Homo sapiens: one gene and its partners. The protein of the gene in region 2 purifies or fractionates together with the protein of the main gene of each other region. This does not show direct contact. Each region holds a gene or a part of one and is shown on either strand. Other genes may lie near its edges. The genes, in order: TMEM98, SACM1L, CIAO2A, ATF2, SCFD1, ARCN1 and MYORG.

What was found.
Region 1: the proteins of SACM1L (region 2) and TMEM98 purify together in Homo sapiens (co-immunoprecipitation; one large-scale study listed by IntAct). This does not show direct contact.
Region 3: the proteins of SACM1L (region 2) and CIAO2A purify together in Homo sapiens (co-immunoprecipitation; one large-scale study listed by IntAct). This does not show direct contact.
Region 4: the proteins of SACM1L (region 2) and ATF2 purify together in Homo sapiens (co-immunoprecipitation; one large-scale study listed by IntAct). This does not show direct contact.
Region 5: the proteins of SACM1L (region 2) and SCFD1 purify together in Homo sapiens (affinity purification with mass spectrometry; one large-scale study listed by BioGRID and IntAct). This does not show direct contact.
Region 6: the proteins of SACM1L (region 2) and ARCN1 purify together in Homo sapiens (co-immunoprecipitation; one study listed by IntAct). This does not show direct contact.
Region 7: the proteins of SACM1L (region 2) and MYORG purify together in Homo sapiens (co-immunoprecipitation; one large-scale study listed by IntAct). This does not show direct contact.

Annotation. Positions count from the first base shown.
Region 1 is NC_000017.11:32,940,849-32,945,095, forward strand, and holds the end of TMEM98 (transmembrane protein 98), read left to right. Parts: coding exon 1-145; 3' UTR 146-3,467; downstream 3,468-4,247. UniProt on the Homo sapiens protein: Functions as a negative regulator of MYRF in oligodendrocyte differentiation and myelination. Interacts with the C-terminal of MYRF inhibiting MYRF self-cleavage and N-fragment nuclear translocation.
Region 2 is NC_000003.12:45,733,876-45,738,290, reverse strand, and holds part of SACM1L (phosphatidylinositol-3-phosphatase SAC1), read right to left. Parts: intron 3,057-4,415; coding exon 2,918-3,056; intron 709-2,917; coding exon 639-708; intron 520-638; coding exon 447-519; intron 1-446.
Region 3 is NC_000015.10:64,076,731-64,081,145, forward strand, and holds part of CIAO2A (cytosolic iron-sulfur assembly component 2A), read right to left. Parts: coding exon 4,372-4,415; intron 1-4,371. UniProt on the Homo sapiens protein: Component of the cytosolic iron-sulfur protein assembly (CIA) complex, a multiprotein complex that mediates the incorporation of iron-sulfur cluster into extramitochondrial Fe/S proteins.
Region 4 is NC_000002.12:175,112,076-175,116,490, forward strand, and holds part of ATF2 (cyclic AMP-dependent transcription factor ATF-2), read right to left. Parts: intron 2,794-4,415; coding exon 2,615-2,793; coding exon of another isoform or gene 2,611-2,614; exon of another isoform or gene 2,168-2,610; intron 2,034-2,167; coding exon 1,919-2,033; intron 1-1,918. UniProt on the Homo sapiens protein: Transcriptional activator which regulates the transcription of various genes, including those involved in anti-apoptosis, cell growth, and DNA damage response.
Region 5 is NC_000014.9:30,635,487-30,639,901, reverse strand, and holds part of SCFD1 (sec1 family domain-containing protein 1), read right to left. Parts: intron 1,778-4,415; coding exon 1,655-1,777; intron 126-1,654; coding exon 38-125; intron 1-37. UniProt on the Homo sapiens protein: Plays a role in SNARE-pin assembly and Golgi-to-ER retrograde transport via its interaction with COG4. Involved in vesicular transport between the endoplasmic reticulum and the Golgi.
Region 6 is NC_000011.10:118,581,976-118,586,390, forward strand, and holds part of ARCN1 (coatomer subunit delta), read left to right. Parts: intron 1-1,203; coding exon 1,204-1,383; intron 1,384-1,833; coding exon 1,834-2,039; intron 2,040-2,504; coding exon 2,505-2,669; intron 2,670-4,415. UniProt on the Homo sapiens protein: Component of the coatomer, a cytosolic protein complex that binds to dilysine motifs and reversibly associates with Golgi non-clathrin-coated vesicles, which further mediate biosynthetic protein transport from the ER, via the Golgi up to the trans Golgi network.
Region 7 is NC_000009.12:34,366,899-34,370,398, forward strand, and holds part of MYORG (myogenesis-regulating glycosidase), read right to left. Parts: 3' UTR 1-3,500.

The DNA of each region.
Region 1 (4,247 bases), on a different chromosome or scaffold from region 2:
GACGGGAGGCCTGGACTGGATTGACCAGTCTCTGTCGGCTGCTGAGGAGCATTTGGAAGTCCTTCGAGAAGCAGCCCTAGCTTCTGAGCCAGATAAAGGCCTCCCAGGCCCTGAAGGCTTCCTGCAGGAGCAGTCTGCAATTTAGTGCCTACAGGCCAGCAGCTAGCCATGAAGGCCCCTGCCGCCATCCCTGGATGGCTCAGCTTAGCCTTCTACTTTTTCCTATAGAGTTAGTTGTTCTCCACGGCTGGAGAGTTCAGCTGTGTGTGCATAGTAAAGCAGGAGATCCCCGTCAGTTTATGCCTCTTTTGCAGTTGCAAACTGTGGCTGGTGAGTGGCAGTCTAATACTACAGTTAGGGGAGATGCCATTCACTCTCTGCAAGAGGAGTATTGAAAACTGGTGGACTGTCAGCTTTATTTAGCTCACCTAGTGTTTTCAAGAAAATTGAGCCACCGTCTAAGAAATCAAGAGGTTTCACATTAAAATTAGAATTTCTGGCCTCTCTCGATCGGTCAGAATGTGTGGCAATTCTGATCTGCATTTTCAGAAGAGGACAATCAATTGAAACTAAGTAGGGGTTTCTTCTTTTGGCAAGACTTGTACTCTCTCACCTGGCCTGTTTCATTTATTTGTATTATCTGCCTGGTCCCTGAGGCGTCTGGGTCTCTCCTCTCCCTTGCAGGTTTGGGTTTGAAGCTGAGGAACTACAAAGTTGATGATTTCTTTTTTATCTTTATGCCTGCAATTTTACCTAGCTACCACTAGGTGGATAGTAAATTTATACTTATGTTTCCCTCAAGTGTGTAGTTATTGAGTCAAATTCATATGCATGGTGTATTGTGGGACATACTTAGATGGAAGGAGAGAGCCTAAGAATCCTGAGGATGATTTCTGTGTATGCCTCAAAATGAGATATTTAGGCTGGGCGCGGTGGCTCACACCTGTAATCCTCGCACTTTGGGAGGCTAAGGTGGGTGGATTGCTTGAGCCCAGGAGTTTGAGACCAGCCTGGGCAACATGGTGAAACCTCATCTCTACACAAACTACAAAAATTAGCTGGGCATGGTGACACGTGCGGCTGCTTGGTAGGCTGAGGTGGGAGGATCGCTTGAGCCCAGGAGGTGAAGGTTGCAGTGAGCCCTGATTGTGCCACTGCATTCCAGCCTGGGCGACAGAGTGAGACCATGTCTCCAAAACATACATATATATAAAATATATTTAAAGACCTCTTGGAGTTCAGGCAGAAGTGAAGATAGCACTATGAAGTAGTTTCCACATTAACAATAGCAATGACTTGAACGATGTGTTCCCCCTTTCTTCTGATATTAATATCTGTTCATTTTGCAAACATTGAAAGATTATGAAAGCTATGACCCAGAATCACAATTATATAATTTGGATACATACCCAAATGGCATAATTTCTGTCATAAGCCTGTAGGAAAAGCTTGAATTCTTCACTTCTCAGATTCTCAGAGCCAGCTTGCTCTTGGGAGAGGGGCCTGGTATAGGGGCTGCCCAGGTTCGTAGCCTATGCTGTCAAGCATGTTTGGAGTTGCACATCTGTTCCCATGTCATTTTCTCTGTCTAACTGAAGTCAGAAAATTCCTCAGCTGGATTCTGGGGAACCAGGAACCCATATTCCCAAATCCAAGATTGGGACCTGGTTTGTCTTTCCATTTGGGCACATTTCATTCTTTCCAGGAAAACAGGCCACTTCCAACCTGCACAATGTACACCAAACCACAGAACCACAGCTGGGATATGGAGTCAGGAGAGGGAAGCTGGAGCTCAACTCTCATGGACTAAAGGATGGATTCTGGATGGGCTCCAGGGGACACCTTATTGGATTGGTGGCTTCCATCAACTCTTAAAAACGTTAAGTGGTGAACTTTCCCGTCCTGTCAAGCTGTGAATGGGGAATGTATACAAAGTCACTTTGACTTTTCTATTTGAGGCCTCCACAGTAAACATCCAGAGTCATCCTATTTTTGTCTTTTTACCTCCCTTTCAGAACCTGTTTTCGTAATTAGACTGGAAAGCAATTCATGCTAAGTTTGCAATGGCTGCCACAGTTGTAAGTGTCCCCTGCATTTTAACCTGCACTAGAGCCCTAAGCCACAGAGAAGCAGTTCTGAATTGGTATCTCAAATACCATCCACCTGGTGTGGGTCTGCAGGGTGGAGAGCTTTCCCAGCACCCCTGAAGCAATGCCCAATGTCGATTACCTTCTCTGAGTCCTGGCAAGTCCTGGCACATTGGCTTTCTGGATCCCTTAGATGCTGCCCTTTCTGTTGTGAGGAGAGGTTGCCGAAGATATTGGAGGTGTCTGCTGGACTGTAGGATTTCTGATCCCACTGCTGTGTAGTTTTTTTTTCTAGTGCTGGACAAGTAAGAAGCCTCTGGATAAATTTGGTGTTGGTGGCTGATGGTTGAAGTGGAAGCAGTCTTTGGGGTAGGAGGCAATGCCACTCCTCTAGGCCCTTCGGGAGTTGGCTGAAGTTACTTCCTCCCTTGGAAGGGGCTGGTTAGTGAGTGCCAGGGATCTCAGGACTGTCTCTGTGCCAGGTGTGGTTTCCCAGGCAACAGACACATTCCTAAGTGCCTAGTTCTCTAGCGTCTGTATACATGGTAGTAGAGCCTTCCTTCCATGTCTCTCTTCCCTCTGGCCTGGAATAGGAGCATTAGACTCAAATTCTGATGAAAAAGAAATTACTTGGAGATAGAGATTCAATGTGAAGAGAACAAGATATTTGAAGTCAGAATTAGGTTTGAATTTGGGCTCAGTGACTTACAGTGTGAGCTTGGTCAAGTTCTTAACATTCTGGTCCTTAGCATTCTCATCTGTATGGTCAAGGCTATTGTCATTGGGTTGGTATGTCAACAAGCAAAACGGTATGTGTGAGCTGCCCAATTGTGGGCCTGGTTCTGATTAGCCAATGTTAACACCCTTCTCTCCACAGCTTCCCATTCTCTGATGCCGCTGACCCAGATGGCGTCACCTCAGTTACCATGGCTTGGTCCAAGCAGTGACTTCTGTTCATGGGCTCTGGAATTGAGTGGCCAAAAATCTGGAATCCCTACAGTAGGGAGAGTAGCCTTGTCCCTGCCCCACTACAAGTCTGTTCATATGAAGACATACAAAGCCGTCGCCTCTAATCAGTGTTCAAAGGGTCGATTGTGCAACTCACATTCCTCCAGAGAAATTCCCCCAGCTTGTGAGATCTCCAAGAGGGAACACGTATTCCTGGCATCCAACTTCCCCTGGTGCTCCCCCTGACCTGCCTCATTCCAGGAGTTCCCTCTCCAGAGACCCTGTGTGCCCACACGAGCAGACTTTTAGAAAATGGCCTACAGTTCAAAGGCCCTGCATTGCTTTATGGCCTTGGAAATGTGGGGAAAGTGTCAGATGAAGAATTTCTATCCTCCTCACCTCCTCCCTGTCTCCAATAAATGCATACCAAGAGCTTTCTGTGGAAGAGGGTTCGTGCTAGATGCTGGAGCTATGAAACAAAAGGCACAATCCCTGCCCTTAAGGAGCGATAGAGAAATGAGCAACTGCTGGAGCCATGACTGTAGCCAGTGCTGTGATGGAGGGGACCACAAGAGGGACTGTGGGCACACAGAGAAGGGACAGGGCAGGGGTGGGGTTGAAATAGGGCAGAGCTGCTGCCTGAATGGAGACTTGACAAAGAAGGAGTCAGGCATCAGAACAGAAAATGGTCCCAGCTACTCAGGTGGCAGGGGCAGGAGGATCGCTTGAGCCTGGGTTGGGTGGAGGCTGCAGTGAATCTTGATAGAGCCACTGCACTCTAGCTTGGGCAACAGAGCAAGACCCTGTCTCAAAACACACACATGTACACACACACAGAAAGTGCCGGGGGAAATAATATGGTTGTGCTGTGTTTGTTCTGGTGGGTCTTACTGTGTTTCTATGAGAAAGGCTGATGAGCAATTTTCAGAATTTGAGGCAAAACTGGTTCTTCCTGTTTCATCCTATTTGTATTTTTATTATCCCAATTTTGCAGGTAAGGAGACCAAAGCAGAAAGATCAGTAACCCTCCTGGAGTCTCACAATTAATATGAATCAGAGCAGGATCTTCAACTCCTCAACTTGTGTTTTTAACTGGCACATCTTCCTGCCTGGGTGCAGCAGGTGGGAAATCCATCATGGAAAGGAAAGAACAGACATGAGAGTCATTCCATTCTCTTCCAGTTCAAATCTTTTTTTGTGAAAAAAATGGTA
Region 2 (4,415 bases):
AGCAAACAGACTAGAAATCTTATTCTGCTCCCAGGGAACCCACATAGCAGAAAAAGAGCCACTGCATGCATAATACATTCAAAATGTTCTCATTAATGTCCTCATTACTCAGTGCAGTCTTTGAAAGCAGCATCAGCATCACCTGGGTGCTTTTTAGAGCACATCTCAAGACTGGTGCTTCAGGTACACGGTAAGGTCTGAGGAGCACTGTGGAGCGGTGGCTCTCAACCCTCCCCAAGCATCAGAATCTCCCAGGGTGGCTAAGAACACACCAGTACCCGGGCCTCACTTCCCAGAAATCCTGACTCCACAGGTCTCAAGTGAGGCCCAGATGCTGGAGTCTTGCTGTTGTTGCTGCTGCTGTCTGAAAGCTGCCCAGGTGATTTTTAAAAGCACCAGGACTGTGAACTACTGATGTGGAATGCTATTTTAAAAGCATGGCTTGCCTGGTAAAGTCAGTCTTCAAGGCACCAGTTCCCGCATATTGCTTGGCACAAGCATTTGCGTTGTCAGCCCAGGCTGTAGAAAAAAGTAAAAACAGCTGATAATTATTAAGATGACAAACAAAGTTCTAAATCCAGAATATTAATTTATTTCAAAATCTGACCAACTTTGTCTATATTAAAGAAATGACCTACCATTTTTGTAAATCTTCTCAAATTCATCTTGTTCTTCAAGCTTTTGTCCCACATGCAAAACTCCTAGTCTCTGGAATAAAAAACCACACCCAGATTTATGTGTAATAGATTTTAGCAGACATGGTTTAGGAAGAAAAAGCAGTCCCCAAATTTTATCTCATGGTGCCTGGTTGCTGGATGCAGGCCAGAAATGTCTGTTGTCTATAGGGGGCCCCAGCTCACAGCAGCCCTCTCCTGCCCAGGGCAGACTGCAAAGCCTCTCCTGAGGGCACCTTTGCCTTGCAGCCCCCGCACTCCCTTGAGGGATAGCAGCAGGACTATACTCAGGGAGAGGGTCAGAAGAGAGAGTGAAAGCTGCTATAGGATTCCAGCCGCTACTTCCTCCCTCCCTCTTACCCCCAGTCTTCTACTGCCTCTACCCCTTGAGACCCCCTCACATGCATCATCCCTCAACTTCTTCACCCCTGAGTCACCCCAGCCTTACCCTCTGTCCCAGGGACCTTTAAGAATCTGATGAGTGCCACCTAATCTACCTCCCCAAAAGTGCACACACACAGACATAGAATATCCCAGGGTTGCTGGGCCCCCTGAATCCCCTCTATAGACTCCCCTTTGGAGACCACCAACCACAGATGACAAGTCCCTGCCTTGTCTCAGACCATCACTTCTGAGAACCACCATCTTCATTGCTTACCTCAGATGACACCTCATCTCCACCTCAGAAGGAGTCATTCCCACCCTCAGACACAGCACAGGAGCCACCTTGGTGACCTTTAGCTGGGTAAGAACTCTGCCTTCACTGGCAGACTTGGAGAGGCACAAGTAGACAGCCCCTACACTAGTAGGCAAAGCTGCTGGAGAGGCTCCTGCCCCCACTCTCTGCAGGTTGGTTAGGTTTCATAATACTATATATAGCATGTAAAATTGTAAAATATGGATTGCAGAGCCTAGTCAAGTAAGTTTTGGTTAATCAGCCATGGAACCAAACCATTCCTAATATTGTTTCTATTAAAAACTACACTTAGAAGACCTTCCAACAGACGAGGACATAGCACAATACAAACTACAGACTACTCCAACAGGGACAGCACTCCTCTGGCAGGTGTGACTTTAAGATTCAAGAACAATTCATTCTGAAGGGGGTATTTTACCTCCATAATTTCTTTCTCGGTATCATACAATTGTCAGAAATAAAGCTGAATGCTTACTAATTACCTGAACAGGAAACCATGTGGTATGCATTTTGTCTGCCCCTCACAACAAATGCCAATGTGATTTAAAAATTGGGGCTCTACATCTTTTTCATTCCAAATATACACAGAAGAAAAAAACCATTTTTCTCAACAGCATAGTCTAGTGGTAAAGCAAAGCTGTGTCAGAAACTTTTTACTTTGGAGTCAATATTCCTTGCTAGTAATAAGAGAGAGATAAATAGAAACAATCTTGAGGTGCTACTTTTGTATTAACGAAATAGAAAAAAAAGAGGCTAGACACAGTGGCTCAAGCCTGTAATCCCAGCACTTTGGGAGCTGAGGCAGGTAGACTGCTTGAGCCCAGGGGTTTGAGACCAACCTGGGCAACATGGTGAAATCCTGTCTCTACAAAAAAAAATACAAAAATTAGCCAGGTGTGGTGGCACATGCCTGTAGCCCCAGCTTTGTGGGAGGCTGAGTTAGTAGGATGGCTTGAGCCCAGGAGGCAGAGGTTGCAGCAAGCCGAGACTGCACCACTGCACTCCAGCCTGGGCAACAGAGCCAGACACTTTCTCAAGGAAAAACAAAAAAAAAATTAAAATATCAAATGCTGGGAAGAGTTCAATGAAATGGATTTACTGATTCATTATTGGTGTCAGTGTAAACTGGTATGACGCTCTTGGAAAATAATATATTTATTCTCTTTAACCCAGTAATTCCACTTCTAGGAATTAACATGAAGGAAATAATTCAAGTTAATAATAACATATACAGATATATTCTCTACGGTGTTATTTATAAACCAAAAATGTAGCAATCTGAATGGCTTAGTAAATTACGGCACAACAATACAACCACCAGAAACTGTGATTACATAAATGCTAAGGGAAAATGGCAAAAGTGAAAACTGTGCATACACAGACTGACCCTAGTTATGGAAAATGTGACATCCATGGGCAAGACACAAAAATAAAAAGAGCTGGGTTAGGGTGTGGGCAATGTGAATATTTTTTGTTACTGGGTTTTAAAGATGTTTAATTTTTTGCTGTGTTGTTTTTCAATTAAAAAAAAAAAAAGCATTCGCACCTGAAGTTGGGCCTGAAGTGAACGACGAGCTAACAAACTCTGGATCACATTGGTTCTATCTAGACAATCCATGCAATTGCTTCGGAACACGCCTTCCTGGTTTGCCACCACCTGGCCAGCAGAGTCCACTAGAAAATAACTAAAACATATTTGTATAAACACTCTCATACCAAAGTAGGTCAGATTTACTAAGGACTTAACTCTTATAACATGGGTCTCATTTCAGTGACATTATTAAAAACTGTAAATTAAAAGGTCAGACAGGAATGTGTGGTCAGGCATATGTGATTATCCTAGACCAAAAAGAAGTCTAAATGGCTGAGGCAAGACAGCCCTCCATCCAAAAAATGGCTGAAGATTAGAGATCATCTCACCCCAAAGATGTGAAAAAGTAAAGTTAAGAGTATTAAAAAGGTTGCTGTGCAAATCAATCATGTTTCCCAAAGCCAGATGAGGGTTTCCTCTAACATAATTATTCCAACTATATCCCTAGATGTCAGGGCTTTATGATTCATATACTATCTTTAGAATCCTCTGGGTTGCTTGTGAAAAAAGATTCCTGGCCTTGAGATCAACTGAATCAGAATCTCTGAGGCAAGGATTGAATATTTTGCATTAAAAATACTTTTAGCTGGGCGTGGTGGTGCGTGCCTGTAATCCCAGCTACTTGGGAGGCTGAGGTGGAAGGATTACTTGAGCTCAGAAGTTCGAGACCAGCCTGGACAACATAACGAGTCCCTGCCTCTAAAAGAACAAAAACGTAGCCAGGCATGGTGGTGCCTACCTGTAGTCAGAAGGCTAAAGTGGGAGGATCACTTGAGCTCAAGGGTTAAAGGTTGCAGTGAACTATGATCACACCACTGCACTCCAGCCTGGGTGACAGAGCGATATCCTGTATCTAAATTAAAAAAAATTTTTTTTAAATACTTAAAAATATTTTTTTTCTTTTTCTTTTTTTTTTGAGATGGAATCTCCCTCCGTCACCCAGACTGAAGCACAGTGGCATGATCTCAGCTCACTCCAACCTCTGCCTCCCAGGTTCAAGTGATTCTCCTGCCTCGGCCTCCTGAGTAGCTGTGATTACAGGCACCCACCACCATGCCTGGCTAATTTTTGTATTTTTAGTACAGATAGGGTTTTGACATGTTGGCCAAGCTGGTCTTGAACTCCTGACCTCAGGTGATCCGTCTGCCTTGGCTTCCCAAAGTGCTGGGATTACAGGCGTGAGCCACAGCCCCCAGCCAAAAAAAAAAAAAAAAATTCTTAAATGGGTAATACATGCAAATAGTACAAGATTTATAAAGAACAATTGGGTATTATTTGAAAAATCAGTTTCCCTTCCTCCCCTTAAACATCCAGATGTCTGCACTGCAACCAACCACAGTTACCAGTTCCCATGTTTTCTTTAACAAGCTCCTTGATAATTCTATGAATTCAAAAATCTGACAACACACAGTGTGGTGGTTAAGAATATGGATGCAGGAAGCAAACTATCTGT
Region 3 (4,415 bases), on a different chromosome or scaffold from region 2:
TTTTTTTTTTTTTGAGACAGGTCTTACTCTGTCGCCTAGGCTGGAGTGCAGTGGCGCGATCATGTCTCACTACAGCCTCGACTTCCTGGGCTCAGGTGATCCTCCCACCTCAGCTCCCACACTCCCACCCCTCTCCTCCCTCGTCTCTATTTTTTTGTAGAGACCGCGTATCGCCATATTGCCCAAGCTGGTCTTGAATTCCTGAGGTTAAGTGATCCGCCCATCTAGGCCTCCCAAAGTACAGAGATTATAGGCGTGAGCCACTGCACCTGGCCCCAATTTTTTTTAAAAAACAAAACAAGCCGGGCGTGGTGGCTCATGCCTGTAATCCCAGCAATTTGGGAGGCCGAGGCAGGCGGATCACGAGGTCAGGAGATCGAGACCATCCTGGCTAACACAGTAAAACCCCAACTCTACTAAAAATACAAAAAATTAGCCGGGCGTGTATTACCAGCTACTCAGGAGGCTGAGGCAGGAGAATCCCTTGAACCCGGGAGGTGGAGGTTACAGTGAGCTGAGACTGCGCCACTGCACTCCAGCCTGGGTGACAGAGCGAGACTCCGTCTCAACAAAACAAAACAAAACAAAACAAAACACCTTTCTCCTAGTAGCAAAACACTCTTATTCTAGACCTCAAAGCAACAGGTATAGAATCACTCTATACTGACTTACTTCAGTTTAAAATTACACAGGACTCATTATTCTAAAAGTGATAAAGGGGAAAAGGCAGCATTTATGCAGCTATTCCTATATGAACTATACTTCAGGGTAACCAATTGATGAGGGGAGCTGTTACCAATAATGGGACAAACTGAATTTATAGGCCTCTGATGTGATGCAATGAGAACACATTTATTCAGTATTCTTGCCAAAAATGCACAAACTGAATCTAACCAGGAAACATCAGAAAACTCAATTTGAGGGACAATCTATAAAATATCTGGTTTACATTCTTCAAAAATATCAAGATCATGAAATAAAGGCTAAGGAACTACTCTAAATTAAATGAGACTAAAGAGACATGGCAACTAATGCAATGTATGATGGGGGAGAGGAGCAGAGCCAGGAGGAGGGACCGCCATGAAGGATGTTACCCATTGGAATACGTGCTGTAGATGAGATGACAGTACTGTATCAATGTCCTGGTTTAGAAATTTATACTGTGGTAATGTAAGAGAATGTCCTTGTTTTCAGGAAATACATCCTATAGTATTTAGAGTAAGGGGGCATTACAAATGCACTCAAACATTTCCAGAAAATATGTGTATGTGTGTGTACATATATAGAGAGAAATTAATGATAAACCAAATGTGGCAAAATGTTAACAATTAGTGAATCTGAATCTGGGTGAAGGATATATGGAATTTCTTTGTACTATTCTTCACTATTTTATTTCTTTTCTTTCATTATTTTCATTTCAAATAAAAAGTTAAACATTGTAATTAAAACAGTTAAAAATGAAAAATAAAATTTACAGGGCATCATAAACCACTAGTATAATAATTTATTAATTTACTCAATTTAAGACGTATTTATTGAGCTCCAAATATGTATAAGATCATAGCAGGAACACAGAGATGTATCATATATGAATCTTGACTTCAAGAAGCTGACAGCTAGCTGGTCAGGCATGGTGGCTCATGCCTGTGATCCCAGCACTTTGGGAGGCTAAGGCGGGTGTATCACCTGAAGTCAGGAGTTCAAGACCAAACTGGCCAACATGGCAAAACCCTGTCTCTACTAAAAATACAAAAATTTAGCTGGGTGTGGTGGTATGCGCCTGTAATCCCAGCTATTTGGGAGGCTGAGGCAGGATAATCGCTTGAACCCAGGAGTCAGAGGCTGCACTGGGCCGAGATCGCACCACTGCCCTCCAGCCTGGGCGACAGAGCGAGATTCCATCGCAAACAAAAAAAAAAAAAAAAGAAAAGAGAGAGAAGTTGACAGTCCAGGAGGGAAGATGAAAAACAAACAGAACACAAGTTAGAAAAGGACACTCTCTACATCAGAAGACAAAGAAAGAGCCACGGGGCTGGGTGCAGTGGCTCACGCCTGTAATCCGAAACACTTTGGGAAACCAAGGCGGGAGGACTGCTTGAGCCCAGGAGTTCACGAACAGCTTGGGCAACATAGTGAGACTCTGTCACTACAAAAAATAAAATTAGCTGGGCATGGTGGCATATACCTGTGGTTCCAGCTACTTGGGAGGGTAAGGAGGGAGGCTCACTTGAGCCTGGGAGATCAAAGGTTCAGTGAGCTGTAATCATACCACTATATTCCAGCTTGGGCAACAGGGTGAGACCCTGTCTTTAAAAAAAACAAAAAGAAAGAGCCACGGCAATTCAAAAAAAGAAATAGCTTTAGTTACAGAAATCAGGACTAGTAGTATGGAAAGGTGAATACAAAAAATAAAAAAAAAAATTTAAAAGATAAATAAAAATTCATCTTAAAAAGAAGAAAGAAATCAGGACTGATATCATGGAAAATAAAATAGTATTTCACTGGGCCTTAAAACGTGGGTAGGATTTGGCCAGGCCCAGTGGTTCATGCCTATAATCCCAACACTTTGAGAGGCCAAGGCAAGATGATCACTTGAGCCCAGGAGTTTGAGACTAGCTTGGGCAACAAAGAGAGACCTCATCTCTACCAAAAATTAAGAAAAAATTAGCCAGGCATGGCAGTGCACGCCTGTAGTCCTAGCTACTTGGGAGGCTGAGCCTCGGAGATAGAGGCTGCAGTAAGCAGTGATCACACCACTGCACTCCAGCCTGGGAGACAGAGCAAGACCCTGTCTCAACAGCAAACAAAAAAGATGTGTAGGATTTGAACATATGAGATGGGAGGAAGGGAACTCCAAGTAGACAGGGTACTCTGTGTAAAGGCTAGGTAGCAGCCAGGTAGAGAAGGCATAATTGCCCAGCAATTACAAGAGGCAGTAAGAGACAAGGCCGAATCATTCACGAGCGATAACCAATTACTATGAATTAACTGTGATATCCATATTCTTGCTCAATAGTAGGGTTAAAAACATCTTCCTCAGATTATCACACCAAAAGCACAAGTTAAAAAATTAAAAACAAATTAGACTTTATGAAAATTTAAAACTTTTGTACTGTAAAGGACACCATCAAGAAAGTGAAAAGACAACACACAGAATGGGAGAACATATTTGCCAATCATATCTGACAAGGGACTTGTATTTAGACTATATAAAGAACTCTTATAATTCAATAATAAAAAGACATCCTTATTTTAAAATGGGCAAAGGATCTGAATAGACAGCTCTCCAAAGATACACAAATGGCCAAAAACCACATGAAAAGGTTCTCAACATTATTAGCCATCAGAGAAATAAAAATCACAACCACCATGACAGCAGGGTGCAGTGGCTCATGCCTATAATCCCAGCACTTTGGGAGGCCGAGGCAGTGGATCACTTGAGGCCAAGAGTTCAAGACCAGCCTGGCCAACATGGTGAAACCCTGTCTCTACTAAAAATAAAAAAAAATTAGCCGGGAATGGTGGTACATGCCTATAATCCAAACTGCCTGGGAGGCTGAAGCACGAGAATCGCTTGAACCCTGGAGGCGGAGGTTGCAGTGAGCCGAGATTGCACCACTGCACTCCAGCCTGGCGACAGGGCAAGACTTTGTCTCAAAAACAAAAACAAGGCCAGGCACAGTGGCTCATGCCTGTAATCCCAGCACTTTGAGAGGCCGAGGCGGGTGGATCATGAGGTCAGGAGTTCAAGACCAGCCTGACCAATATGGTGAAACCCCGTCTCTACTAAAAATACAAAAAATTAGCTGGGCGTGGTGGTGGGCACCTGTAGTCCCAGCTACTCGGGAGGCTGAGGCAGGAGAATCGCTTGAACCTGAGAGGCAGAGGTTGCAGTAAGCTGAGATGGCGCCACTGAACTCCAGCCTGGGTGACAGTGAGACTCTGATTCAAAAAACAAAAACAAAAAACCATCACTTCACACCCACTAGAATGCCTGTAATCAAAGATAATAATAAATGTTAGCAAGGATGTGGAGAAGTGGGAACGCAGAATGGTGCAGCCACTGTGGAAAACAAACAATTCCTCAAAATGTTAAACACAGAGTTACCATAGGACCGGGCGATTCCACTCACAGGTGGAAAAGAAATGAAAATATATGCCTACACAAAAACTTATACATGAATGTTCATAGCAGCATTACTCATAATAGACAAAAAGTAGAAACAACCTAAATGTCCATCAACTGAGTAACAGACAAGCAAAAACCACTGAATTGGTACACTTTAAATACGTGAATTGTGTGGTATGTGAATTATATCTCAACAAAGCTGTTTTACAACAACAACAACAACAAAAATACATCTTTCTTACCTTATGTTTAAATGGTAAACATCGCTGAAGTTTTACTCTTAAGC
Region 4 (4,415 bases), on a different chromosome or scaffold from region 2:
CATACCACATAATAACAAATAACACACTGTAATAATTTCTGAAATAATCTGTAACAGGTTTTACCATTTTGGTTTTTTCCTTTTTTTTCTTAAACCTAACACTGAGTGAACACAGTTACTGTATAAATAAAGCATATCTTTTCTTTCATTTCCGGTTGCTTTCATCACTAGGTACATGTAACAGGATAATCAGAATCTCAAAAACAAGGCAAGAATGTTTCCCTCCTCAAAAAAATATTCTCAGTAAAGAGGAAGCAGATACCTTATATCTGAGTCCTTACAAAGTCTCTCAAATAATGCATTTTGAACAAAGTTCTTTTTAAAGAAGGCACATTATCTTGAAATTACGTCAATCAATGCTAATTTTGGATAGTTTGAAAGATCACGTGGAAGAATTAGTTAATTAAAAAAAGATATAAATATCAAACATTAATCCTAGTAATATTCTTGGGGGTAATCTCACCGAAAGTGTTGGAATGTTACTATAAGTAAGCTTTTAAAAATAAGTTTTATTTTTTATTATTTTTGAGACAAGGTCTTACTTTGTTGCCCAGCCTGGAATGCAGTGGTGCAATCTCGGCTAACTACAGTCTCAACCTCCAGGCTCAAGTGATCCTCCCACCTCAGCCTTCTGAGTAGCTGAGACTACAGGTGCTTCCATCACAACTGGCTAATTTGTGTTTATTTTTTGTAGAGATGGGGTTTTGCCATGTTGCCCAGCCTGGTCTTGAACTCCTGGACTTAGGCAAGCCACCCACCCTGGTCTCCCAAAGTGCTGGGATTACAGGCATGAGCCACTGCACTTGGCCTAAAAATAATTTTTAAAAGCTACACTGTAAATGATTACACTGTACTGATCAGTAACAAGCATCTTAGAAGGTAAAAGAAAAAACTATCTTTTTATTACATAAATAAGTACCTAATGCTTGGTGTAAGATTTCCAGGGAGAGAATAATAGAGAGATTCATAAAGTAATATCGTAAATGATTTAGATGAAAAAGAAAATACTGTGTTCTGGAAACTGTGCTAGATGTCTCAAAAAGTGGTTCTCAGGATGAAAATTTGAATGTCAAAGACATAACTGAAGAGTTTGTTTGAATAAAACTGTTTTATGTAATGTAAGTAAGAAAAAAGCAATTTTCTAACACACATTATTCCAAACAATGTGTTTTTAAATGTTCATTAAACTATTACTTTTTTTTTTTTTTTGACTTGGGGTCTTGCCCTGTCATCCAGGCAGGATCCATAGCTCACTGCAGTCTCAAACGCCTGGGCTCACACAATCCTCCTACCTCAGCCGCCCAATACGCTGGGATTACAACAGGCATGAGTTGCCATGCCTGGCCAAACTATTAAATATCATAAGTAGATAGTTAACTATTTTGTCTACGTCTTTCAAAATTTATATATTTAACACACCCCTCAAAAAACTTTTTTGCGGGGTCTTTTCACAGGGAAAGTGAAAGATTATTTTTCTAGAACATTTACATTTTAACATGCTGGGCTATCAAAGATTCTACAAACCCTACTTGACCACAAAAATTCAGAGTGTGTCTTTATAAACAATTTCCATACTAATAGAAATACCACAGAGTTACCTGACAAGTATTCTAGTACAAATATCTTTCTAAAATTTGAAATCTGTGTTAATATTTGAATGCTACAAGTCCAGTCAAATTGATATGGGTTGAATAAGAAGATCTCAGTATAAAAAAAAAATTAAGGTTTTGGGGAGAAGAGAAAAAATAGCTATACCTTGAATGGTATATGCTATTACAATGATAACAAATAAATACTATCAACTGCTAATCAATATTATGTTAAATTCAATTTCATAAGCCAGTCAAGCAGCCAACTTTATTTTCTGACTACAAAGATCAGTTTTGCGATAGAGATTTAAATAGTCTAACTTTCTTACTGGGACTGCAGCTGGAACATGCACATTAGAACTTGTAATTGATGCAGGAATAGCAACAGGCATGGTTTGTCCATTAGGAAGATGTAACAGAAGAGGAAATGGGCCTGGTACAGGGCTAAGAAAAACAAAAGAAGAGAAATTTTAAAAAAGAGATTCATACCAACTGTCTCTTAAAAATACAATAGTATTTTTACTCCTATAATCATATCATTTAAAAATACATTTTCTAACCACAGCAAAGCAAATAGCAAAATTTAATTATTTTTAATTGCATCTTAAATGCATAACCTGTGTAGCAGTATTGAAAAGAAGAGAAAAGTTATGGATTTACTTAGGACAATCTCCAATTTGTAAAATGAGAAAAACTGTCATCAGAGAGCTCTTGGGAGCTACCAGTAAGAACTGAAAGAAATGGAATCTGGTGATGCAGTAATTTTATATTTTGTGTGAAATAGCATGAAAATAAGACTATCTTAAATTCACATTCTATATTTGTTTTTAGTTGTATTTATCTCCCACTCTGTTAGTTAATATTTATATTAAAGAAGACTACGCAAGTACTTTTTCCAAAATTCGAAGCATGCACACACATACAAAACTAAGATCTTAGTTTGAATAATCAAATGTCTTAGGAAAAATCATTACAAAACAAACTTAATTCATGTATATGTTCAATGATTGGCCTGAATCACTTACACAATTGGCCTGTTAGAGGATGGTGCCTGGGTGATTACAGTACTTGAGGTTGGTGAAGGTACTGCCTGCTGAATAATTACACTTGAGTCAGAACTTGTAAGCAGCACATTGGGAACCTGTAATGATGCTGGACGAACAATAGCTGATGTGGGCTGTGCAGTTTGTGCCAATGGTACTTCCTATTTAACAATGAGATAAAAAAGGGTGGCATTTAAAAATACAAATCATGTACCTTAGTGAACAGAATGTAACACACTTCTAAAAGCATCTACAGAATAATAACTGCTAAAAGCAAATTAATATCTCAAATTAATTAAAAGAACATTTTAGAAGAGCTGTAAAGATTCAAATGCAATGTTCAATTAATATTTTAATTTTAAAAAGACTCGTTTTTTTTTTTTCCAGTACAACTTGTTCTCCTATCAATCCAGAAATAAGTTAGACTGGGCAACTTGGCTATGATACCAAGAGAATTTTAATAAAAAATAAAAATATAATCCATTCTCAGAGAATCACAGAACTTAAAATCCAGAAGGGACTGTTTAGTCCCCCTCCCTCATTATACTGTATGAAGAGGAAACAGGTCCAGTGAGACTGTGTTATGGCTGATACAATTAAGTAACAGAAATAAGAACTTTTAGAGCAATACAAATAATTGTTAATTCCAGTTAGCTACCTCTTCTATATCAATAATTTCTTCATATCAAAAGGCCACGTAATACTGATATCTTGAATGTAAAATAAATAATTACCGGAGTGAACTCTTTCAAGTCAGGAAAACAGAATTTGTCAGCCAAGACCTTAAAGATGGTATTTCCTCTGGTTTTACAAATTATAGAACAAAAAGTTTTAAAAGATTTTACCCAGAACTCCTTAAATAGTCAGTGTAAAAATTGGGTCTATGGTGTTTTATGAATTGGCCTGTATGCTGCCACTTATCATCAAAATCTTATTAAGCTACATAGGAAGAAGGATAAAGTAGTAGTATTGTAACTTCATTTATTCAGTAAGTTGAGAACTTATGCTCCCAAGGACTAGCTCTCAAGGAAGAGACAATAAACAAGTAAAACAAGTAAGAAAATTTCAGATTGTAGTAAATGTTAAGTGTTACAGAATAATACGTGCAATGTAACAAAGGATGAAAGATTAGCTGAAGGTAAGGAAGAGTCAGTTAATTTAGACAGCATAGTAAGAATAGGTGAGCTTCTTTGCAAAAACAGCATTCGAACTGATGATAAAAGGATGAGGAGGAGAGCATTTCATTGTAGGGAGAAGGAAGCAATACCATATATGTCATGTCCTGAGGTAGGAAAAAGCTTTGAATATTTGATGAACACAATAGAGAGGCATGAGGTAAGGATAGATGCGTAGACAGGCCCAGATCAAAGAGGGCTTATGCCAAGGAGTGTGAATTATTTTAAATACAATGGTAGACCATTGAAAGATTTTAAGCAGGTGACATATTTAATGTATTAAAAGTCATCTTACAGAAAATGGATTGGAGGTAGAAGCAGGAAGACAAGTTAGAAGGTAACTGTTAATAATCCAAACAAAAGATGATGATGGTTTGGGCTTACGTGGTGTCACTGAACACAGACATAGAGGATGAGATTCAGGTCTGATAAAATATGCTGTTAGTTTCAGTGTAAAAGAAAGAAGAAATTAAGGATGACCCCTAAATTCTCAGCTAGAACAACTAAATGGATGGAGAAAATTTACTGAGATGGGGAAAACTGGGGGAAGAATCAAGGACTCTGATTTTGACCTATTAAGTTTAAGATGTCTATTAGACATAGAAAAG
Region 5 (4,415 bases), on a different chromosome or scaffold from region 2:
GTTAACAAAGAATTGCAACATTTCTATTTTTACATACCACGATATGAAACAAGCTCCTTATTTTGATTACATAATACAAACATATCATCTTCCAAAGTAATAAAATTGAGATATTGGTCAAAAACCTAGAAACAAAAGAAAAGGTTTACAAATCAATCTTACAATATAGCCATATTGAAAGTAAATTTAGTTTGCTCTAACCTACCAATGGTAGAAATGAAAAAAAATCCTAATTACATTCAATAACTAAAAATTGTACTGTGTAACAGCCTAATTGAACAAGAATGAGGAGTAAAGAGTAAGTTAAGGCAATAAAAACAAGTCTTTGGGCAATAAATATGAAGGAGGAGAATAACATTTTCAGAAAACAAAATTTAAGCAGATACAAGAACTTAAATTGTGGTTGTGATGGGAATGGATATCAATTTTGAAGAAAACATACAATTTTAACAATCATTTTCATCACATTTTCCTAAAAAAGTCACAGTAATTGTTTTACACCAAGAACTTTTCTAATAAAGTGGGAAAAAGTTATGCCAGTTCTTTGGAAGTGCAGAGTAGGAGAAAAATTAAGAGAACTATTTGAAATACACTGAATTTAGTTAACCAAATTAAGGCTGAGTGAGGTGGCTTGCACCTGTAATCCCAGAGCTTTGGGAGGCTGAGGTGGGAGGACTGTTTGAGGCCAGAAGTTTGAGACCTGGGCAACATATTAAAAAAATTAGCTGGGTGGGGTGGTACGAGCCCAGGAGCTGAAGATTGCAGCAAGCAGTGATTGCACCACTGCATTCCAGCCTGGGCGAGCGAGACACTGTCTCAAAACAAAACAAGAAGGAAAACAAAAGTTGTTCCCATTATTTTATGTGAAGTTAATAAATTTTGAGCACAAAGATTAAAGGCATAAGCCTCAAAAACTAATCAGAAATATTAGTGGTCTATTTAACTCTAACAATGAAAAATCTATCAGTAGAAAAAGAATAGAAAGTATATGCATGGTTGTTTAGTCTTTTATTTGTCCTAGATAGTTGTCTGGAACTTTAATGCATATCTTGTCCAAATTCAAGAAACACAGAGCATTACAGGATTATAACCTGAAATATATTTTACAAATTGATTTATAACTGAAGCTGAACCTGACTAAAAAGTCACTATGATGTAGAATTGCAGGCCTGTCATGGGTTCTTTTTCTCTTAATATGCAACAGAGGCACTTTGGATCTCAATATGCAACACGGGCACTTTGGATCCTCTTTCCTAAGTAAAAAAAATATCTGGAAATAGTATGATGATTATAATGATTACAGATAAAACAATGTCAACATACTTTCAATACAGTTTATGACAATACAACTGTCAAATGATTTCTGAGTTGACCTAAAAATATTATACAAATCACAGACTAAAGCAAAACTCATTCTGCTTTTTATTTCTGTCTTTCAAATTCATTAAATAATAGGTTCCTTTAGTTTGGCTTATTTTGCCTAGTTCAACTTGAATATAATTTATATTATCAGAACTCTTTATAAAAGTATTGAGCCTAAACAATTCTGTTGTTCTGGTCATCTGTCAAATAGATATCTATGCCAACTACGGGTTTCAGAACAGTGTTAAATTTTACATTGACAAAATGTCATCAACCCACCAAACTCTCTTACCTTGGCTACTTGTGTTACTGCACTAGCTGCTAACGCTGCATTTGCAATATCTTCCAGTTTACTTCTTGAAATAGCAGAAATAAAATTTAAATAATATGATTCATATAGTTGATTTCGAAGATCCTATCAATACAATGAAAACTTTATTCTTATAGGATAAAGAAGACCATGAATACATATGTTTCAACTACTATAAGGCAAAGTTATATTTAAAAGACAGGATATTTAAATGACAATCAAAAAAAGTATCCCAAGAGAAAAAACCTTTGAAGTAGTACTGGTTATCTGGTTATCAGATGTAACTAAAATGTTTCTTAATAAAGTAATAAAATTATATTATCAACAAAATCTCATTAATTACAATACAGTACAAACTGCTTTCATACAGCCTATCTGCATTCTTCTTAAAATATCCAGATATGGTCCACTAATATAGTAAAATGCTTGTTATATTTGGCAGACACGATCTTCAACTGTTCTGGACATGTGATGACACAACAAATCCTTCATTGCACACAGACAAGTTATAAATCCAATTACCAATTCTAGAGGTATTTCTTTTCAACTGCTCAAAAGTAGTGCAATTTAAGTTATGCAAATTCTTAAGTCAAATTTACTTATCTTCTTATACTTTTAGCAAATAGATATCGAAATAACCATACTTCCTTAAATCTAAGATGTCATTGACTGTAACAAGAACCATCATTTTATGTAACACTAAGAATTAATGATGCCAATAAAATTTTGTGGCATGATCAATTTTAAGATGCACCTGATTTTAGCGATGTTAAAATGTGAAACATTGAGGGGTTGGAGCCTTTGTGAGGAAGGTGATCAGGGTAGTGGTTCAATCAAGGTCAAGAAATTATTTATGTATGAGGATTGAGAAATAAGTAATATGTTCACGATACTGGGAACCATGTTTTTCACTCTGAGAAAGGAGTTACAAATTTGTAAAGAGAAAAGGGAAACGCTAGAGTGAATCCTGTGTTGCTGAGCTGAAACAGTTTTGGAGGTTATCTGTTTATCTGGATAGGTGAGGGGAAGAGAGGGAGAATTGTAGAAATAAATACAGATATAAAAGTGTATGTATAAATACATAATTTCCTAACTTTTTCCATTGAGAGGACCTAAGAACAGTGACACTCTAGTCACAATGAATATACCTAATGCCTAGATCCTGATTCCTAAATACCATTCTTTACAGAAAGCAACCAGAGCTCCTCAGAAAAATGTCTGAATCCTGGGCTGAGACAGAGAAAGTAAAATCCTAGGCTATATTGGAACATCTTATTGTGCCAGAAAGTAAGGAAGTGGTCAAAGAATGATGCATACATTTCAAAAGGACATATAAGTTCAGCAAGGTTGCAGGATACAAGATAAATACATAAAAATCAATTGAATTTTTATACAATTGCAATGAAGAATCCTAAAAATGGAATTAAGAATTCCATTCATAATAAGCATTAAACACATGAAAGAATAAATTTAACAAAAGAAGCACAAAACTTATGACAAGCTAATCGTAATTTGGAAATTCAAGAAAAGCCAAAACAGTCTGAAAAAAAGTACAAAGTTGGAGGACACAATTTCTCAATTTCAAAACTTGCTATCAAGCAAGAGATATCAACACTGTGTGGTACAGGCATAAGGAAAGACATAGATATCAATGCAATAGAACTGAGAGTTCAGAAATCAAACAAGATATCTGTGGTCAGCTGATTTTTGACAAGGCTGCCAAGACCATTCACTAGGGAAAGAATAGTCTCTTTAATAAATTACGCTGGGACAACTGGATAGCCACATGCAAAAGAATAAAGTTGGACACCTACATCCCACCATATATAAAAATAATGCAAAGGGGAATCAAGACCTACAGGTAAGAGCCAAAACTATAAAATTCTTAGAAGAAAACACAAGAATCTGGAATGGTTTCCTAAATATGACACCAAAAGCATAAGCAACTCAAGAAAAAAAAAAACCGATAAACTGGGCTTCATCAAAATCAAAAATGTTTGTGCTTCAAAGGACATTATCCAGAGAATGAAAAGATAACCCATAGACTGGGAGAAAATATTTACAAATCATAAACTTGTGAGTGTCTAGTATCCAAAACAGAAAAAGAATTCTATCAACTCAACAATAAAAAGACAACCCAATTAAAAACTGGGTGAATGATCTGAATAGATATTTCTAGAAAGACATACAAATGGCCAATAAGCATGTTAAAAGATGCTTAATATCATTAATTACAGAAATGCAAATCAAAACTATAATGAGATGCCACTTCAAACCTATTAGGATGGCTACAATAAAAATATCGGATAGTAAGTGTTCAGCAAGGATCTGGAGAAATCAGAACCCTCACACACTACTGGTGGGAATATAAAATGGTGCAACCACACTTCGCAAAACAGTCTATTACTAAAAAGGTAAACATAGAGTTATCATTTGACCATGCAATTTTATTCCTATGTGTTTACGGCCACAAGAGAATTGAAAACATGTCCACAGAGAAACCTGCACATGAATATTTATGGCAACATTATTAATAGCCAAAAGGTAGAAACAATCCAAATGTCCATCAAGTGGTAAAAGGATGAATAAAATTTCGTACATCCATACAATGGAATATATTCAGCCACGAAAAGGAATAAGGTACCAATTCATGCTACAATATGGATGAACCTTGGAAACATTATGCTAAGAGAAATCAGCCATATACAAAAGACCACATATTATAGGATTTCATTCATATGTA
Region 6 (4,415 bases), on a different chromosome or scaffold from region 2:
ACTTTATGCCAAAGTCTTGCTTAAAATGAAGGCTAAGGCCAGGTGCGGTAGCATGTGCCTGTAGTCCAAGCTACTCAGGAGGCTGAGGCAGAAGGATTGCTTGAGGCCAGGAGTTCAAGTGCACAGGCATTATACTTTAGTGTGGGCAACACAGCAAGACCCTGATTCTTTTTTTTTTAAAGACGGAGTCTCGCTCTTGCCCTGGCTGGAGTGCAGTGGTGCAATGGTGCAATCTCGGCTCACTGCAACCTCCACCTCCCAGGTTCAAGCAATTTTCTGGCCTCAGCCTCCCGAGTAGTTGAGATTACAGATGTGCATCGCCATGCCTGGCTAATTTTTGTACGGGGTTTCACCATGTTGGCCAGGCTGGTCTCGAACTCCTGACCTCAGGTGATCTGCCTATCTTGGCGTCCCGAAGTGCTGGGATTACAGGCATGAGCCGCTGCACCCGGCTGTAAGAATCAGGGTCTTGGGCGTGGTGGCTCACGCTTGTAATCCCAGCACTTTGGGAGGCTGAGGCGGGTGGATCACCTGAGGTCAGAAGTTTGAGACCAGCCTGACCAACGTGGTGAAACCTCGTCTCTACTCAAAATACAAAAAAATTAGCTGGGCATGGTGGCGGGCACCCATAATCCTACTACTCAGGAGGCTGAGGCATGAGAATTGCGTGAACCCAGGAGGTGGGGGTTGCAGTGAGCCGAGATCGTGCCACTGCACTCCAGACCGGGTGACAGAGTTAGACTTTGTCTTAAAAAAAAAAAAAAAAAAAAAATCAGGGAGTTAGGCTGGGCGCAGTGGCTCACGCCTGTAATCCCAGCAGTTTGGGAGACTGAGGCAAGCGGATCACCTGAGGTCAGGAGTTCAACACCAGCCTGGCCAACATGGTGAAACCCCGTCTCTACTAAAAATACAAAAATTAGCTGGGCGTGGTGGTACACACCTGTAGTCCCAGCTACTCCGGAAGCTGAGGCAGGAGAATCACTTAAACCCAGGAGATGGAGGTTGCAGTGAGCCGAGATGGCACCACTGCACTCCAGCGTGGGCAGCAGAGCGAGACTCTGTCCCAAAAAATAAAATAAAGACTAGAAGTAGCTAATAAAGGGATTTAGGTTATTGAAATTTATGTACTCTAAAGGATAAGACTTGGAAATATAGCTGCTGATAAATTCTAAATCTTTCTTTTTTATTGGTGTCCACGCTTAGATCCCTGAATATTGCCGAGCCTTAGAAGAGAATGAAATATCTGAGCACTGTTTTGATTTGATTTTTGCTTTTGATGAAATTGTCGCACTGGGATACCGGGAGAATGTTAACTTGGCACAGATCAGAACCTTCACAGAAATGGATTCTCATGAGGAGAAGGTGTTCAGAGCCGTCAGAGAGGTAAATAGGATCTTCTCTGGGACTACCTGTTTGTATGTCTTTCTCTTAGGCTTCACTAATCTCATTTTCCTATTTTTACTTACTAATGTAGACTGTATTCAAAACTATGTCCAGGCTAGGCACAGTGGCTCATGTCTGTAATCTCAGCACTTTGGGAGGCGGAAGTGGGAGTATCACTTGAGTCCAGGAGTTCAAGACCAGACTGGACAGCGTAGTGAGACCCTGTCTCTATAAAAAGTAAAAAAAAAATTAGCCAGGCATGGTAGCACGTGCATGTGGGTCCCAGCTACTTGGGAGGCTGAGATGGGAGGATCACTTGAGCCCAGGAAGTTGAGGCTGCAGTGAGCTGTGATTGTGCCACTTGCACTCCAGCCTGGGTCACAGAGTGAGACCCTGTCTCAACAAAAACCCAAAAAAAAAAGCTACATTAATGTATGTCTTTTTCTGTAGACTCAAGAACGTGAAGCTAAGGCTGAGATGCGTCGTAAAGCAAAGGAATTACAACAGGCCCGAAGAGATGCAGAGAGACAGGGCAAAAAAGCACCAGGATTTGGCGGATTTGGCAGCTCTGCAGTATCTGGAGGCAGCACAGCTGCCATGATCACAGAGACCATCATTGAAACTGATAAACCAAAAGTGGCACCTGCACCAGCCAGGTATAATCCAGTGTACTTTAGAATACCAGGTGAAGGGTGTATATGTGTCTATCTTTGAAGTCATAATCTGATTTCTTGGAAAGCTGTAAATAAAGAAGGACTTGATGAAGTAAGATATGATGTTACATTTGGCCACATACAATATGAGGATAAAGAAGAAATCTGAATGTGGTGTTTTTCCTTTTGTATAAAAGAGAGTTATAAATTATGTCATGACCTCAGTTTCCTATGAGAGTTGCCTTATTGTGGGGAGGAAAGGGCTATTTAATGCTTTATGGAATGTAGATTTTTAATCTTGATGTTCATTGATTGATTTTAGGGGAAATCTGTGAATTACCCAAAATTATATACAAAATTTTGTGCACAGGTGTATTTCTCTGGACGGGAGATACAAAATTTTCATCAGATCATGTGTGCTTGTAAAAATAAACCTTTGGGTAATGAATTTCAAATTCTTCCACTTAGGCCTTCAGGCCCCAGCAAGGCTTTAAAACTTGGAGCCAAAGGAAAGGAAGTAGATAACTTTGTGGACAAATTAAAATCTGAAGGTGAAACCATCATGTCCTCTAGTATGGGCAAGCGTACTTCTGAAGCAACCAAAATGCATGCTCCACCCATTAATATGGAAAGGTAAGTAGGAACTTTGAGTAAGAATTCAAGCTTTGAATACAGTCCACATAATTTTTTAAAAATCTTATTTCAGTGTGCTATAAATTCTTTCTCTGTCTTTTAATCGTTCCTGATTTAAAAGATTTATTCAGAGCAGATTCTACATATTAACATAAGATCGTTTTTGGTTTTGTTTTGTTTTATTTACTTATTTTTTTTTGAGATGGAGTCTCACTCTGTCACCCAGGCTGGAGTGCAGTGGTGTGATCTCGGCTCGCTGCAAGCTCTCCCTCCCAGGTTCACGCCATTCTCCTGCCTCAGCCTCCCGAGTAGCTGGGACCACAGGCGCCCACCCCTACGCCCGGCTAATTTTTTTGTATTTTTAGTAGAGATGGGGTTTCGCCGTGTTAGCCAGAATGGTCTCGATCTCCTGACCTTGTGATCCGCCTGACTCAGCCTCCCGAAGTGCTGGGATTACAGGCGTGAGCCACCACGCCCGGCTGTTGTTTTGTTTTATTTTTTTGAGACAGGGTCTTACTATGTTGTCTAGGCTGGCCTCCAACTCCTGAGCTCAGTTAATCTTCCTGCCTCAGCCTCCCAAGTAACTGGGATACAGGCATGCGTTGCTGCACCTGACCTTTTCCTTTTTCCTTAAACCATGATTGGGGGCCCTCAGCCACCTATTTTCTATGAAGTTTAGAACTTTCCTTTTACAGCTAAATTAAAGTTACTTGTAGTCACACCTGGTATATAGCGTATCTCTTAGAATGCACTTGAATTAGGGGACTAGAGCTATGGTGACCCCACACTGTATTTTGGCATGACTTTTTCTAATTAAAGTCTAAGTAGAACCAATCTTTAATCCAAAACTTGTAGATATCTTTAATAGCAAATTAATATATTTTGCATTTTTATTTTATTTATTTATTTTTTTGAGATGGGGTTTCACTCTGTCACCCAGGCTGGAGTACAGTGGTGCAATCTCAGCTTGTTGCAACCTCTGCCTCCCAGGTTCAAGTGATTCTCCCACCTCAGCCTCCCAAGTAGCTGGGACTACAGGCATGCACCACCACGCTGGGCTAATTTCTGTATTTTGGTAGAGATGGGGTTTTGCCTTGTTGCCCAGGCTGGTCTCGAACTCCTGGACTCAAGCAATCTGCCTGCCTCGGCCTCACAAAGTACTGGGATTACAGGCGTCAGCCACCATGCCCAGCCATCTTTTGCAGTTTAAATATTTGAAGCCAGTATGGAATATTTTGATTCATCTCTTATCTCAGGGCTGTGGTACTGGTTGGTGACATTTTTAAGTGGTAGTTATCAAGTTCACATATTCGTGACTCAGATTTCTCGTCTTGAAGCCAGACCTTCTACTGTTGCTGATGGTTTTGAGGTCAAGTGAAAGATAATACCAGGAGGATACCTTTATCAGGTGTGCATAAAAGAGGAGTATTTACTCTTTTTCTTTCTTCTTTCCTTTCTTTCTTCCTTTCTTTCTTTCTTGACAGAGTCTTGCTCTGTCTCCCAGACTGGAGTGCAATGGCACGATCTTGCAACCTCCACCTCCCGGGGTCAAGCAATTCTCCTGCCTCAGCCTCCCAAGTGGCTGGGATTACAGGTGCACGCCATCACACCCGGCTAATTTTCTTATTTTTAGTAGAGACAGAGTTTTGCCGTGTTGGCCAGGTGGGTCTCGAACTCCTGACCTCAAGTGATCTGCCTGCCTCTGCCTCCCAAAAGTGCTTGGATTATAGGCGTGAGCCACCGTGC
Region 7 (3,500 bases), on a different chromosome or scaffold from region 2:
TCATCAGGCATTTTCCACACTGAGAAAATAAAGAAGGTAGAGGAGTGGTGTATTAGTCTGTTTTCACACTGCTGATAAAGACATACCCGAGACTGGGTAATTTATGAAGAAAAAGAGGTTTAATGAACTCACAGTTCCATGTGGCTGGGAGGCCTCACAATCATGGTGGAAGGCAAAAGGCACATCTTACATGGCAGCAGACAAGAGAGAATGAGAGCCAAGCAAAAGGGGAAACCCCTTATTAAACCATCAGATCTCGTGAGACTTATTCACTACCACCAGAACAGTATGGGAGAAACTGCCCCTATGATTCAATTATCTCCCACCAGGTCCCTCCCACAATTATGGGAGCTACAATTTAAGGTGATATTTGGATGGGGACACAGCCAAACCATATCATTCTCTCCCTGGCCCCTCCCAAATCTCATGTCCTCTCATTTAAAAATCAATCATGCCTTCCCAACAGTCCCCCAAAGTCTTAACTCATTTCAGCATTAACTCAAAAGTCCATACTCCAAAGTCTCATCTGAAACAAGGCAAGTCCCTTCCACCTATGAGCCTGTAAAATCAAAGGCTAGTTAGTTACTTCCTAGATACAACGGAGGTACAGGCATTGGCTAAATACACCCATTTCAAGTGGGAGAAGTTGGCCAAAACGAAGTGGCTAAAGGCCCCATGCAAGTCTGAAATCCAGCAGGGCAGTTAAATCTTAAAGCTCCAAAATGGTCTCCTTTGACTCCATGTCTCACATCCAGGTCACACTGATGCAGGAGGTGGGTTCCCATGGTCTTGGGCAGCTCCACCCCTATGGCATTGCAGGGTACAGCCTACTTCTCGGTTGCTTTTACAGGCTGGCGTTGAGTGTCTGTGGCTTTTCCAGGTGCATGGTGCAAGCTGTCAGTGGATATACCATTCTGATGTCTGGAGGACGGTGGCCTTCTTCTGACAGCTCTACTAGGCAGTGTCCCAGTGGGGTCTCTGTGTGGGGGCTTCCCCTTCCACATTGCCTTAACAGAGGTTCTCCATGAGGGCCTCACTCCTGTAGCAAACTTCTGCCTGGACATACATGCATTTCCATACATTCTCTGAAATCTAGGCAGAGGTTCCCAAACCTCAGTTCTTGACTTCTGTGCACCTGCAGGCTCAACACTACGTGGAAGATGCCAAGACTTGGGGCTTGCACCCTCTGAAGCCAAGGCCTGAGCTGTATCTTGGCCCCTTTTAGCCATGACTAGAGCAGCTGGGATGCATGGTACCAAGTCCCTGGGCTGCACACAGCAAGGGGACCTTGGGCCTGGCCCACAAAACCATTTTTTCCCTCCTAGGCCTCCAGGCCTGTGATGGGAGGCACTGCTGCAAAGGTCTCTGACATGCCCTGCAGACATTTTCCCCATGTCTTAGTGATTAACATTTGGCTCCTTGTTACTTATGCAAATTTCTGCAGGGGGCTTGAATTTATCCTCAGAAAATGGGTTTTTCTTTTCTATCTCATCATCAGGCTGCAAATTTTCCAAACTTTTATAGTCTGTTTCCCTTTTAAAACTGAATGCTTTTAACAGCACCCAAGTCACCTCATGAATGCTTTGCTGCTTAGAAATTTCTTCTGCCAGATACCCTAAATCATCTCCCTCGAGTTCAAAGTTCCACAAATCTCTAGGGCAGGGGCAAAATGCAGCCAGTCTCTTTGCTAAAATATAGCAAGAGTCACCTTTACTCCAGTACCAAACAAGTTCCTCATCGCTATCTGAGACCAACTCAGCCTGGATTTCATGTCCCAATCATTATCAGCATTTTGGTCAAAGCCATTTAACAAGTCTCTAGGAAGTCCCAAACTTTCCCACATTTTCCTGTCTTCTGATCCCTCCAAACTGTTCCAACCTCTGCCTGTTACCCAGTTCCAAAGTTGCTTCCACATTTTTGGGTATTTACAGCAGCGCCCCACTCTACTGGTACCAATTTACTGTATAGGTTCATTTTCACAGTGCTGATAAAGACATAACCAAGACTGGGTAATTTATAAAGAAAAAGAGGTTTAATGAACTCACAGCTCCACGTGGCTGGGGAGGCCTCACAAGCATGACAGAAAGGCACGTCTTACATGGCGGCAGGCAAGAGAGAATGAGAACTAAGCAAAAGGGGAAACCTCTTATAAAATCATCAGCTCTCATGAGATCTATTCACTATCACCAGAACAGTATGGCGGAAACTGCCCCCATATTTCAATTATCTCCCACTGGGTCCTTCCCACAACACATGGCAATTATGGGAGCTACAATTCAAGATGAGTTTTAGGTGGGGACACAGCCAAACCATATCAGGTGGGGAAACGGATGCATTCTCTAGGGGGTAGGGGACTGGTTTTGCTACCAGAGCTGTTGATGGAAGCTAAAGTTCACCCTGTTTCCCACCGACCCGCTCTGGCATGCCACTTTTCTCCAGACTCAGCTGCAAAGTCAGAAAAAACTCACTCCGGCTGAGGTTGCTCTTCTTAGAAAGAGAAAATGGCTGGCGTGGTGGCTCATGCCTGTAATCCCAACACTTTGGGAGGCCAAGGTGGGTGCATCACTAGGTCAGGAGTTTGAGACTAGCCTGGCCAACATGGTAAACCCCATCTCTACTAAAAAATACAAAAAGCCAGGCATAGTGATGCATGCCTGTAATCTCAGCTACTCAATCGCTTGAACCTAGGAGGAGGGGTTGCAGTGAGCTGATTGTGCCACTGCACTCCAACCTGGGTGACAGAGCAAGACTCCATCTAAGGGGGGGCGGGGGGAAGAGAAAATGGCTGAGATGAAAGACCTTCCCCTGTCTGTTTATTGGTAGTTGTCAGTGTGTGCATGTAGCCTGTGTTCAGAAGCACAGACCACCAGAGTAAGAACATCACTCCCTTCTAGGCCACACCCCAGGCACATGTGCAGGGGGTGAGGCAGCTGAGGAATCTTGAAAGGGCTATTTATTTCCTACGAGAGTCCTGGGGAAACCGCCTGGGAGGAGGCTGGCTCAGCAATCAGAGCCTCAAATTTGCTCCATGCCCCCTTCCTCCAGATCATCCAGCCTCAGAGAGGTTGTGTTCATTTCATAGATCAGGGACCCATGATGCGTGTTTCTCTCTCTCTCTCTCTCTCACACACACACACGCACACTCTTCAGTTAAGGCACGAAGTCTGGCCTGCATGGCCCTGCAAGTCTGTTCCCATCAGGCACATTTGGCCCAGGGCTGAGCCCATGTATGTACACAAATGGGTTAGTGCAGTGTTAGGAGTCTCTTCACAAATTGGGAACATGATGATGGCTCTGTGCTAAGCCCAGTCCTCCTGTTCCCTGGGAGGGGATCTCTTGCCTCCTTGTCAGCCAAACACCTCCCCAGCTGGACTGGGACCAAATCAGCCACAGTTCAGGTGAGTGCTGGGGACTCAGGGCCTGGCTTCTAACACTAAGAAAACACACGTTCTAAGTGTGGTGGGGGCTATTTGGAGACCTTAAATAAGATCAAGTCCCCA